Linked DNA regions of Homo sapiens: region 2 is linked to region 1. Evidence: fine-mapped expression QTL. Tissue or cell type: lung. Region 1 holds a variant in brackets; the other region holds the start of a gene. All regions are shown on one strand. Distances are between the middles of the regions.

Region 1 (2,755 bases):
TGCACAAGTTCTTGTGTGAATGTATGTTTTCGGTTGTCTTGAGTATATACTTAGGAATGGAATTTCTGGGTTATAAGGTAACTGTTTAACCTTATAAGGAACTCCCAGACTGTTTCCTGAAGTGGCTGAGGATTTTGCCTTCCCACCAGCAATGTTATGAGTGTTCTAATTTCTCGACATCCTTGCTAACACTTATTTTCTGGTGTTTCTTTTTTTTTTTCATCATAGCCATCCCAGTGGGTGTGAAGTAGTATCTTACTGTGGTTTTGATTTATTTCCCTAATGACTAATGATGTTGAGCATCATTTTATGTTCTTATTGGCCATCTGTATATCTGCTTTGGAGAAATGTCTGTTCAGATTCTTTGCCCATTTTTAAATGCAGTTGTCTTTTTATTCTTTTATGAGTTGTTTAAATATATTTTGGATACTAGATCCTAATCAGAGATAAGATTTACAAATATTTTATTTACAAATGTTTTCTCCCATTCTGTGAGTTGTCTTTTTTTTTTTTTTTTTTTTTGAGACAGGGTCCCCAGGCTGCAGTGCAGAGGTGGTGTGATCACGACTCACTGCAGCCTCAACCTCCCGGGCTCAAGTGATCCTCCCACCTCAGCCTCCTGAATAGCTGGGACTACAGGCACACCACCATGCCAGGCTAATTTTTAAATTTAAAAACAATGTTTTGCAGAGATGAGGTCTCACTAAGTTACCCACATTGGTTTCAAACTCCTGGCTTCACGTGATCCTCTCACCTCAGGATCCCAAAGTGCTGGGATTATAGGGATGAGCCACCATGCCCAGGCTTCTTGCTTTCTTGATAGTCCTTTTCTGCACAGAAGTTTTTTATTTTGATAAAGTTTAATTGACCTGTTTCTTCTTTTGTTGCTTATGCCTTTGGTGTCATGTTTAAGGAACTGTTGCCTACTCCAACGTCATGAAGATTTACACCTATGTTTCCTGCTAAGAGTTATAGTTTTGTAAAATGGCATTTTTATTAAATCATGTTTTGATTTATTTAAGATGACTATCATGCCAAAGCTCCCTGGTTACAAAGGTCACAAAAATATAAAGAAAATACAAAAAATATATTTTAGTCTTATCTTCTATCACATGATGGTATAGGATGTAGTCATTGGAGTCAAATCATGGATTTGACTTCCAGGACTTCTAGGCACCATGTCTAAGTAGCTTCCTTGGAGAATCTGTGTATCCTGACTGAGAATGAGTATTCCAAATTTTATGTGCATTCTATATATTTATCTATTACAAAGATATATATAAATATAGATATATTGTTATACCATTAAAAACTTTTTTTTTTTTTTTTTTTTTGAGACAGGGTCTGGCTCTGTCACCCAGGCTGGAGTGGAATGGC[G/A]CCATCTCAGCTCACTGTAACCTCTGCCTCCCAGGCTCAAGCCATCCTTCCAACTCAGCCTCCCAAGTAGCTGGGACTATAGGCATATGCCACCATGCCCGGCTAATTTTTATAATTTTTGTATTTTTTGTAGAGACAGGGTTTCACCATGTTGCCCAAGCTGGTCTTGAGCTCCTGAGCTCAAGCGATCCGCCCACCTCAGCCTCCCAAAGTGCTGGGATTACAGGTATGAGCCACTGTGCCCAGCTGGAAATGTCCATTTTTCCATCTCTTGGGTGACACTCTGGCTAGCTGTTCACTAGCACTGAGCTTTTTGAGAACTAAGCAATTAACTTCTCCAGTATATTTAATTGAAATTTTTTCTTACTATTCCCCTGCTTACTGGGAAGGCACCACAATAGTATATTGTAAAGAGTAAGAATTAGGAAACCTGAGTTTTGGCTCTGACTCTGCCACTAACTGTGTGACCCTGGAGATTCGTCTCATTTCACTGGCCCTTGGTGTCCTCTTTGAGAGAGGAAGAAAGGAAAGAAGGGAGGGAAAAAAGGAGGGAGGGAAAGGAATGCCCTTCCAATTCTGGCAGTCTGATTGTTTGGGACTACATTTAGAAATGTCTTTTCATCTCTATTTGTAGCAAGCAGAATTGTTCCAGCCAGTTTTCAGGCTATTTGTGTGTGCTAACCTTTGTGGTAGCACTTCTCTCACATTTGGCTTTTGGAAGTAATTCCTAGCCCAAATAACAATCTTCTTTTCCTTGTTTGGCATCTCTACCCAAAAGCCAAACATTGATACATCTGAAGGGAAGGCAGGCTGTGGGCCAGGCTCACAGATAGGCATAAATGTTGACTCCCCAAGTATGCTGTGGGAGATCAAAGGGGAAGATGTGCTGACTAAATGTCCCATGAGAATCCCTGTGAGCCCATAACTTGGAGGAACTGTGTGGTCCCTGACCAGCCTAAGTTTTGGAAAGGAATCAGAAGGCTCCTCCCGATTCACAGGGTAACCAGCTGGCCAGCTAACATCAAGCAGAAGGCAAACAAAATAATGCTTTAAAATTTCCGCTCCTGCCACTTGCCTTGGGGGGGAAAGAAGTATTTAGACAGTTAATTCACTCATTCACTCATTCAGTGAATATATATTGACAGCCTATAATGTGCCACTATTCTAGGCACCAGGAATACAGCAGGGAACAAAATAAAGCTCCCATAATCATGAAGCTGACACGCTCATGAGGAAGACAGACAACAGACAAGCGAGTAGCTCTACATACATGTGTGTATACATGTGTGCATACATGTATGCATATGTGCATGCATATACTTATGTATGTATGTGTCAGATGGTAAGCACTTTAGGAAAAGGCAAAACAGAGAAAGTG
Region 2 (2,627 bases), 220 kb after region 1:
ACCCCCCGCCCACTCACAGCAGATCCTTCTGACCAGGTTTAAGGCGGGGCTCGGTGGGGCTCTCCCCTGCCCCAAGAGAGAGGGAACTGGGGAAGTGGGAGCAGTTCCGATGGTGCTCTCCTTCTGCCGCTCCACCACCAGCCAGGAGGACCCCCCCCCCCGACCTCCTCCCCTCATCTGGTGGAGCCCCCACAACGGGAGTGGCATCTGGGTTGGGGGCGAGTACAGACCGTATCGGGCAGGGGCCACCCTGGGAGGGGTCTCAGAGGGGCGGAGGGGTGGGGTGGGAAGGGGGATGGTGGAGACTGGAGCCACGCCCAGCCCAGAGACGGATGAAGGGACCGAGAAAGACTCTTGAGACCGAAAGAAGAGACAGCGAGGAGGAGGCGCCGCGCGGGTCGGGCCTCCAGGGACCCAGGGGCGGGAGGCGAGGCCCGGCGGGCGGCCTGGCCTGGGCCCCGCGGTAGAGCGGAGAGGCGGCTGGACTGGCAGGGGGCGGCGAGCGTGGGCCGGGGGCGCGGCTCCGGGAGGACGGGATCGAGGGGGCGGCGGGCGGGGGTAGGGGTGTGGGTGGGGGTGGGGCGATGGAGCACGCGGAGGGCAAGGGACGGACGGATCGGGTGGCGAGGGACAGAAGGATCGGGTCTCGGAGAGGCGCGCAGGGGGAGAACACAGAGTGGGTGGCGACAGACGGACGGACACAGGGCCCGGGAGAGAGTCGGGAGGGACGGACGGGCCCCTCGGAGGAGCGGGAGACACACGGGCGGGTGGAGGGGCCGGGAGCGGGCAGACAGAAGGACCTCAGCCCCCACTGTCTAGCGGAGGGACACACAGACGGACAGGGGGACGGAGTCACCGGCAGGTCTCGGCGCGGCGGGACTTTCGCTGACCGCGGCTCAGTTTCTCAGTTTCGGAAACGGGAACTGGGGCGGGAAGGGGGAAGGAAGGGCGCCGCGCCCTCGGGGTAGCCCCGATCCCGCGCCCGGACCCGGCCCTCACTTACCTCCCGTTGCAGGGGCAGGCGCCAAGGGTCGCGGCGGCAGCGGCGGGGGCGCCGCTCCCCGGCGCGCGCGGACGGGGTTCGGCGCGGCGCTGACTGGGATGGGCCAAGCGGCCAGTGAGGTGTGGCCCGGGCCTCCGCGCGGCGGGCGGGCGCCGGGGGTCGCTCGGGAGATGTGGGCTACAGCCGCCTCGGGCTCCGGCGCCGCGGCACACGGAAGTGCGAGGGGGCGGGGCCGAGCGACCTCACCCAGGTGCCGCCGGCCCCGCCCCCGCCAGGCCCCGCCCCCGCCAGGCCTCGCCCTGCCAGGCCTCGCCCCGCCAGCTGCAATCGGGGACAGCGTCCCTCCGCCTCTGCCTGCGCGGGACACCGAGTCTCCCGGTCCCTCTGCCCTGCCTGGCCCTCTTCGCATCCTCCCGCCATTAGCGCGCAGCCAGCCCTCAGAAGGGGCCCATTTTACAGAGGAGGACGCTGAGGCCCGGTGGGGAGGCTCCCTCCGCCCGCTGGGGCCTGGGAGGGGCCGGCGGGGGTTCCCCCGCTCCCCACACCCACGCCCGGGACTCCCCACTGGCCAGCTGGCCCGCCTCTCCTGGCCCCACTCCTGCTCTTCCTGTTGGCTGGAGCTCGGACGCGGCCGGGCGCGGTGCCCGCCGCCAAGCCCGCTGTCCCGGCTCTGCCCCAAAGACTGAGCTGGTTAGACTCCAGGGTCGGAGGTTCTCGCTGGTCGGGCGCTGCACTGCTCCTCAGGCGGTTCTGGGAACTGCCCCTACTCGGACTGGCAGTTGCCCCTACCCCGATTGGCAGTCTTCTGCTTTCCTGCCCCCACCTTTGAGACCTCTCTATTGCTCCTGGCAGGCGCCTGAGCCTCCTTTCCAGACATGGAACTTGGTTGTCAGCCATAACTCCTTCATTCATTCATTCACTCATTCATCTATTCACCGAGTGTCCCCTAGGCTCAAAGTCTAGGGACCAGTTGGGGTTCTAGGGAGTCCATTCCCCTGTCCCCAGAGCTCAGAAAGCCAAGACATTAGCCTTATACTCATCCAAAGAAATGTCACTTCCCAGGAGACAAAAAAGAGGGTTCCAGGTCCTGGGGAACCACCTAGAAGGGATAGAGAAAGTCTAGACAGCTCTTCCCAGCTGAGACACAAGGGATGGAAGTGGGGGACAATCCCTGAGGTGGCCTGAGCTGAGAAAGGGGCTTGTGACAGAGACAGGCCATTGGACTTTGGTCTTCTCACAGAGCAATGAGAAGGTGGTGAAAGCTATTACAACCAGGCAGGATGACAGGCTCAAGGGGGCTCCTGCGGGATAGATGGGGCAGAGGGACAGCAGGGCAGAGGAGAGGCTGGATGGGGGACAGAAGGGCTGCCACGTTGTTCAGGTGGGAGGACCCTGGTTGAGATTGCGGAAGATGGATGGGGAGAAAAGGCCAGACCAGGTGGGTTCAAGGACTATCCTTTGGGAAAGACTTTCTCTTCACACCCAGGCCTTGAGCATGCTGTTCTCTGGGCCTGAATGCCATTTCCCACCCCACCCCCAAACCTCTACCTGCCCTGGTTGTGTCCATTCAAATGTCCCTCCTCCCTGATGCCCAGTTGTAATGCACGGCACTTCCCTGAGTGAA

What was found. PIP is the estimated chance that this variant, and not a neighbour inherited with it, causes the effect.
Region 2: PRKCD starts here. The variant in region 1 is fine-mapped to the expression of PRKCD in lung (TOPMed, PIP above 0.99).

The regions. Positions count from the first base shown.
Region 1 is chr3:53,379,574-53,382,328 of GRCh38, reverse strand. No RefSeq gene overlaps it. Among named protein-coding and RNA genes, the nearest start is that of DCP1A, 33 kb to the right of the region's middle. The variant G/A (reference allele first, on the strand shown) is at 1,378.
Region 2 is chr3:53,159,805-53,162,431 of GRCh38, reverse strand. It overlaps PRKCD (protein kinase C delta), which reads right to left and starts at 1,223. Exons shown (of 19, transcript NM_006254.4): 1 at 1,004-1,223. RefSeq lists silencers at 272-501, 772-1,721.